2 separate regions of the Homo sapiens genome follow, and region 2 is linked to region 1. The links come from fine-mapping of genetic effects on gene expression. A gene starts in region 1. The other region holds a variant in brackets. All regions are shown on one strand. Distances are between the middles of the regions. Region 1 holds the start of THAP10 (THAP domain containing 10). Region 2 overlaps LRRC49 (leucine rich repeat containing 49).

Region 1 (4,000 bases):
TTAATGTACTATGGATTGTTATAAATGTTGGCTGGTTATACTTACTAAATGGAAAACAGATTTATTATGTATGCTGGATCTGTTTCCCAACGGTTAGTTTTTATGGGTTATAAAGACTTTGGTTGTTTGACTAGCTTGGCTTTTCTTCTCCCAATTTTTGATTAGGTTGTGTAATTATGAAGAAGAAAAATGGTGTAGGGGGATGTGTGTGGCACATGTTTAGTATTTATCTCTCTTGCTACACACATATATATGTATGTGGATGTATATGTTTGGGCAAAGTTTGTATAGGTGGTGATGGTGGACAGATGGTTCAAGGAAAGGACAGCTATCTTGACAGGTATACAGCTTGGTGAGGAGGGAAACTGGCAGATAATTGAAAATTCAATTATAATGCAAAAATTTGTTCTTATAGTCATGTAATCATTCCATAAATATTTATTGAATTACTTAAATTTGTAAAATATTGTTTTAGGCACTGCAATACAATGGCAAAGAAATCAGACATGATCCTAGCTCTCATGGAGCTTACATTCTAATATGAGAAACAAATATTAAGCAAACTACACAATTATTTCATGGCAATTATGGTAAGTGCTACTGAAGTATCTGTGCTATTGAATCACATGGAGTACACGAAGAATGAGAGTACATAACTAAGGGATCAAGGGGAAAGATGTTTAGCTGATTTTTAAGGGAAAAAGACTTAATTGGCAATGATGGGAGTGGGAGGGGCATAGTTCCAGGATATTATAATACATGCAACAACTGAGCAAAGTCTTGTTGGTAGGAAGTAATATAGTATAGTATGTCCAAGAACTGAAAGGTCAGCATGATGGTACACAGTGAGCAACAGGGACAGTGGCCTTGGTTAGGGCTAGTGTGGTATGCAGGGGGAAAAAACATGCAGGGCCATGTAAATTGGGTTAATAATTTTGCTCTTTATCTTAATAATTGCAAGATGCCATTAAAGGGTCTTAAATACCCACCCCAATGTAGGAAGCAGGTTAGTACTGCAGAAAGAGTGTTGGTCTGGCAACCGGACCTAAGTAAGGATTACAGACCCCTGAGGAAATTACTAACCTCTTGCTATAATTTAATCTGTGTAATGGTGGCAAGGCTGAAGTTTATCACAAGGAAGGCTGGAAAGTTTTCTTTAAAATGGTACGTGGGGAAGAAGGTAGTAGTAACCAGATGCAAAATGAGTGCAAACAATGTTTAGAAGGAACAGAAAAGTAGGCAGAAGAGAGCAAGATGGGGAAAGTCAGCTCACTAGGGATACTGAACTTAAAGGCAGCTGGAGCTAGTTATCAGTCATAAAGGAAGCTTGGGGTGGGAAGGGATTTATTAGCAAGCTCCATCATCTTCATCTGTAGCTCCACATCTCCTTCGCCCCATCATTTGTGACACAAATAAGGGACTTTCCTCAAGCTTATGTAATGTTATGCAACACAGTTTCAAGCACTCCAATCCTGGAGATTTGCTCAAATTAAACCCTTTCTATTTAAAAACTCTGGAGCAGCGAGTGAAAGCAACTCACTACTCTGCAGGACAAGACTCTGTGTGTGTGTGTGTGTGTGTGTGTGTGTGTGTGTGTGTGTGTGTGTGTGTGAGTTTTGGGGGAGGAGCAGTTAGAAGGAATTAACTGGGTCACTTAATTCCAAAGTGTTAATGATAAGTGGGACCTTGGAGATCACCTCTAAAGCACACCCCTAACTTTGCAGATTAGAAAACAGGAACTTTCGAGATGAGGTGCCTTTCCCAAGGTGACACTAAGTGGAGGAGCCCAGCCAGAGTCCAGGGGTCCTTACACAACCTTCGGTGGTCTCTCTTTACCTGTGAAGCTGCAGCCTGCTTCCCAGCTCGGGGGCGTGTACAGGAGACTGGACCTGGGGCAGCCTCAGAATGCCTGGCTGCCTGGAGCTCTCCTCGCGTGTCCAGGCGGCCTGCTTGGTCTCCCTCCTCTCCCCTCTTAGGTGCCGGGGCGGGCACCCGGTGCAGGGTGGGCACGGCGCCTGCCACCAGCCTCAGGCGCTGGGAGAAGCGCAGGTTCTTCTGGATAACCGAAGAGACGTCAAAACAGGCTGGGGCAAAGTGGTCAGAGCAGATGACCGAGCGGTCATTGCCTCCGTACCAGTCGGCGCGGCAACCCCGCACGAAGCGGTCCCAGAGCAGCCGCACGGCCCGGTCCTTGGGAAAGCGGAACAGCGACTTCCCAGACTTGGTGGTGTTGCCGCAGTGGGCGGCCACACAACGGGCCGGCATGGCGGCCGTCTTCGGTGCGCGGGAGCCGGGTTCCCTGGACCTTCGCCCTTGGGCACGCTCCTCGCAGCGGCCTCGGCGAGGCAAGTCCTCCCCTCCTCACCTGTCCACTCCGGGTCGGGATTGTTTCCTTCCCTACCTCTGGTCACCGGAAGTGGCGATCTGGGGCCCCCAATGGGAGGGCTCTTTGATATCTTCCTCCTCCTCCTCCCTGCGCTGCTCCCCAGGAGCCAGTGGACACAAGCAGAGGGATACAAATTTCGCGCGGGCAGCGCTGAGGTGGGCCGTAAAGAGGAACGGACCGGAAGTGGTGGTGGTTATAGCAACCAGTGTGGCCAGCCTCTTCCCCAGCTTATCCTCCTCCCAATACTCCCGCTCTGTTTTTATGAGGCTGGGAAAATAGAACGAGGAAGTGGTGACGCACTGGGCTCTCACGAATACAACTAGAAGCTGCAACGACTGTGTGGCTCTATCGATTCGGGAGAGGTCCAGACCGGAAATGGTCGTTTCCATGGTAACCCTGAGCAGGTTGCCTGGGAGATGACCTCTTTCGGGTCTCTTTGAATCTCCGCTGTAGCGTCACCTGGAAGGCAGATCTAACAGAGAACCTGGACTGTCTCCTATCATGATTCCCGGGAAATATCGCTCTGTTTCTGGCCGGGCTGCGAACAACGTAAGTTGGGCCTTCTACTTTCTCTTTCTTCCCACTGGTACTCTTTCTGACTGGCGTCTTTGTCCTAGGAGATGGGCTGTATTATTAGGACCGGCACCGCTGGGTCTACTCAAGCTATTGTCTGACCAGGGTTTGAGGTTCGTGGGCTGGACCAAGGCACAATTTAATATTGTATGATGGGTACTCAAAGTCTTGTCCAGGATCTGGGCTCCCCAGAAGGTGGAGCTGGTCTGCTGTGAAAGGCTTGGGTTTATTTAAATTCCTTTGGCCAGTCAATTCCTTTTTCTTTTCTTTTCCTTTTAACTGTGAAGAGAATTTATCATTAGGGACTCCCACCTCCTTCACCTGTCTCATTGAGATGTTTATTTAGACCTGAATGGCAAATGTCGAAAGCCTGAGGTACTAACTAGAGGGTTAAATTGCTGCCGACATTTTGGAAAATAAATCAGTGAAACCTTTTAATTCTTAGATGTGATTTTATTGTTTTCAGCAAATCCTCAGAACAAGATCATTTACCAGAAACAGAAATAGAGCATTGTGTTCTATTTTTTTGTTGTATTTCTGTTTGTACCTTTTTTTTTTTTGGAAATATGTGTTTGTGTATTAAGAGCAAATTTTATGGTTTAATTTTTACATTTCAGGTGAACTGCGGGCTTCATCTGGTTATTCAAACATCATCGCTTCCTGAAAAAAACAAAGTAAGATTTAAGAAGGTTGGCATTTAAATTGAAGATTGTTTTAAATTCTACACAAATAGCAGCATGACTTAAAGTGTAGATAGATTCTAAACTGAAAAATTTAAGTAGATTTGCTTTGATTTCCAGTTTAAAGCTAGTTCTTACTTTCTGCCTACATAAAGCTAAAATAGCCCTCTTTAAAAAACTTAATGTGATTTTATTGATTACAAAAGGGTAAGGGTTTTTTTGTTTTTTTTTTTTGACATTTACACTTTTTTTTTTCTTGAGACAGGGTCTAGCTGTATCACCCAGGCTGGGGCGCTGGGGTGCAGTGGCACAATTTTGGCTCACTGCAACCTCTGCCTCCCAGGCTCAAGCGATCCTCCCA
Region 2 (4,000 bases), 41 kb after region 1:
TCTAGGTAACTTGCTGCAGCTTTGACATCAGCACTTGCTGCTACTTCACCTTGCACTTTTATGTTCTGGAGATGGCTTCTGTCCTTAAACCTCATGAACCAACCTCTGCTAGCTTCTAGCTTTTCTTCTGCAGCTTCCTTATCTCTCTCAGCCTTCATAGAATTGTTGAGAGTTAAGGCCTTGTTCTGGATTAGGCTTTGGCTTAAGAGAATACTGTGGCTGGTTTGATCTTTCCAGACCATTCAAACTTTCTTCCTATTGTTTTTATTTATTAATTGTGTGTTCCACTGGAGTAGCACTTTTGATTTTCTCCAAGAACTTTTCCTTTGCATTCATAACTTGGCTAGCTGGTGAAAGAGGCCTGGTTTTCAGCCTATCTCAGCTTTCAACATGACTTTCTCACTAAGCTTAACCATTTCTAGCTTTTGATTTTAAGTGAGAGACTTGTAACTCATTTTTTCACTTGAGCACTTAGAGACCATTGTAGGGGTTATTAATTGGCCTAGTTTTAATATTGTTGTGCCTCGAGGCAAAGGTAGGACCAAGAAGAGGGAGAGAGATGGGGGAAGTGCCAGTGAGTGGAGCAGTCAGAACACACATTTGTTGATTAAGTTTGCAACCTTCTATGGGCACAGTTTGTGATGCCCCAAAACAATTGCAATAGTAATATCACAGATCACTGATCACGGATAATCATAACAAATATAATAATAATAAAATTTGAAATATTGTGAGAACTACAAAAATGTGACCTAGAGACGAAGTGAGCACATGCTGTTGGAAAAATGGCACTGACTTGGTTGATACAGGATTGCCACAAACCTTCAATTTGTAAAATTTAAAAAAAAGCACAATATCTGCAAAGCATAATTAAACGAGGCATGCATGTACCTTATTTTTTCTTGTTTTTAATTTTTTTCATTGCTCTTATAAATTTAAAGATAAATATTCCATAGTCTTTATCAAGTTACTATATTTTCTTAATTTTTTGGCATTTCTTCATCTGTTGCCTGAAAGTTCTACTGACTGTTACTCATGGTAATTTTTTCTTTATAGTTTAATAGTTTGGAATAGTCAGGATGTTGCAAAGCCTGAGTTGAATTCGTGTCCTTCTAGACAGTTTTGCCAGGAGTGTTAGGGTCATGAATGCCAGGTACCATTTTTTATGAGGGGTCTTTTTAGATTATGTTTGTGATGTAAGTTTGAACTGTAAATTCCAGTGAGGGAAAGCCTATGGTTATGAAATTGAGGCTTTTTATTGATTTCCTCAAAGCTGTTAAATCTAGCTCTCCTAGATTATAAAGACTGGACATTTCCCTAATTAGTCAGCATATCAGTGCCTTCTTACTGGTCTGGTTTTAAGTTCCCTTTCAGTTTTTGCTCTGGGGTATTAAAACAGTGTGTAGAAGAAAATCAGACTGGTGAATTGACTGATATCTATTGCTGTGTAATGGGTAGTAAACAAGTACAAAAACCAGATAAACCCATTAATGCCTTTGGATAACTGCCAAATAATGGACTTTTTTCATTGGCATTTATATATATGATTAGAGTTTTAATATGATGGCTTGCAGCTATTAGTCCTCATATAATAAGTGTCTGTGTCACAAAGTGATAGGTGAAGCAAGTAGTTATTTTGGAATTAATTTAATAAGTCTTTTTTTTAAAAAGGAATACTTCATTGTTTTTTGTTTCCAAGCTTGTTTGATGCTTTGTGAATGAATCTGTTTACAGCTCTCAAAGTTAGAATAATTACCCCTATATATTTTTACTCTAACTTGTTTTGTATGAAAGCCTACATAGTAAAAATGAGAGTAGCTATGATTTTATTATAGACATCTTTGCCCTACTTGTTGCATGTCAGAATCCTTGGTGCATGTCAAAATCTGTTC[A/C]CCTTTCTTCTTCCTTATTCCTCTAGAGGAAGCTGCTCTAAAAATAGCTCCAGTGATAGATATTCCCCACGTGATCAGATTGCTGAATCATTTAGTTCTTTTCTTTTCTTTTTTCTTTCTCTGTCTTTTTTTTTTTTTTTTTTTTTGAGATGGAGTCTTGCTCTGTTGTCCAGGCTAGAGTACAGAGGCGCAATCTCGGCTAACTGCAACCTCCGCCTCCCTCGTTCAAACAATTCTCCCGTCTCAGCCTCCCAAGTAGCTGGGACTATAGGCACACGCCTCCGTGCCTGGCTAATTTTTGTATTTTTAGTAGAGATGGGGTTTCACCACACTGGTCAGGCTGGTCTCGAACTCCTGATCTCAAATGATGCACCCACCTCACCTCCCAAATTGCTGGGATTACAGGCACAAGCCACCACACCTGGCCATTTAGTTCTTTTATGCAGTTTAGGGATATGGACAACAGTGCCTGAGCAGAGTAGGACAAGCATTTTTCTCAGAAAACAAATCAGTATTTTTTTGGAAAATAAAGAATTATAATCCTCTCAAATAATCTTGTGGTAAATAATTTTTTCTATTTTTTAAAAGATTATATTTTCCAAATACATAAAATAGTTTTGAATTTTACTTCAAAAAATGTTTTGAATATTATTTTCAGTATTATGTTTTATTAAAAATAATAAATTTAAGATAATGAGGAAATTAATAACGAGCTATAAATATTCCCCTACATGTAAACATTTTATTTCATTTTTTTCCCTCTCATCTTAGGTATGTTAACATTCTGGCTTCTTTGTTATAGTTTCTCTGATGCTGAAATAGTTACCTCCAGAAAGGATATGTTAGGGGTATTTAATGCTTGACAGTAAAATAAATACTTTTTCTTAAATAGATGAGAATTTACCTTTCTTACATTATCCCTAACCCCCATTTCCACTTTCCCTGTCATTCCGAAATAATTTTTAGGTAAGCAGATTGTTGAGTGCTGGCTCCTGCAGAGTACCGCCAGAATGACTAGTTGATAAAGCAAAGGAGAAATTACTACTGGCAAGTAAAAGCACACTGCCTTGACATAGCCTTGGCTGTATCTTCGAAGGCAGAGACAGGAGATTTAGTTTGAAATTTCTTGGGGTTCTGGTTTAGGGTGGGTCTTTCAATGCAGGGGCTTAATGAAAATGGATACATTTATGATAGAATAGATTAGGATGGTTGACAAAGCACGGTGAGGTTTTCAAAGTGAGTCTTGGACCATGATGTTAAACTTTTGTTTTCCCTGAGATTAATAGCTGTCTCAATTTAGGGCTTGTTTAACTATCATTAATGTCCAAACTCTCCAACAAAACCCTAAAATCCCTTTCTGTATAGGCAAAGACTTCAGGTGATCTGTGTTTCATTTTTACCTCTTGGAGATACCCTTCTAGAGCCTCCTGTCCCCTGTCTAATGAAGTCTGCTTGCATTTAGCCCTGCTATACAGATTTCATCCTTGGATTTCTCTTTGCCTCTCCTAGATGATGAATTGTACTCCCTGAATCTTATATATATCCCATCTTTTGTTTACTCTCTTATATTAGAGGAGCCATCCCCTAGTAGTTTTTAACAGGTCTTTCTTCTGTAAATAATGCATGCATAGATAATTGATACGGTAAATACGGTGTTTTCTTTTTGTCTATTATAATGCTAGAATTTTGTTACAAAAGTATATCACAGAATTGCTAAAAAATTGGAGAAAAGTTAACATTTTCTTACAGAAATGAAATTTGGAACAACGAAAAATGATTGTGTATAATTATTTGCTTTTTAAAGTTCTGGAAAGGGTATCTATGTAAGTGATTATGAGGATATATAGAATTGAATTCTGCATTTTAGTGTTTCAACTTGTGAATATTTTTATATTTTTGATAACTCTACTAGGCAATGACATTTAATGATTTTTAAAATTTGATAAAGACGTAAAATTTTGTCTCATAAACAGAGATTAAATAATTATAATTTTGTCAAATAAACTTAAAAAACTTTTTCTCACAAATTATATCCTGATGGAATTTGAGTTTTCTATTTTTATTGAAAAAAGTTATGTCTTAGAAGGTGTTTATAATCTCTGAAGATG

What was found. PIP is the estimated chance that this variant, and not a neighbour inherited with it, causes the effect. A credible set is the group of variants that fine-mapping cannot tell apart.
Region 2: its variant is the best candidate, but not a certain one, in a credible set for the expression of THAP10 in whole blood (TOPMed, PIP 0.89).

Annotation. Positions count from the first base shown.
Region 1 is chr15:70,890,008-70,894,007 of GRCh38, forward strand. It overlaps THAP10 (THAP domain containing 10), which reads right to left and starts at 2,426. Exons shown (of 3, transcript NM_020147.4): 1 at 1,837-2,426. The coding sequence starts at 2,265. It overlaps LRRC49 (leucine rich repeat containing 49), which reads left to right and starts at 2,819. Exons shown (of 16, transcript NM_017691.5): 1 at 2,819-2,935; 2 at 3,577-3,633. The coding sequence starts at 2,888. RefSeq lists an enhancer at 2,081-2,779.
Region 2 is chr15:70,930,710-70,934,709 of GRCh38, forward strand. The region is part of intron 7 of LRRC49 (leucine rich repeat containing 49); the gene reads left to right. Among named protein-coding and RNA genes, the nearest start is that of LRRC49, 40 kb to the left of the region's middle. The variant A/C (reference allele first, on the strand shown) is at 1,893.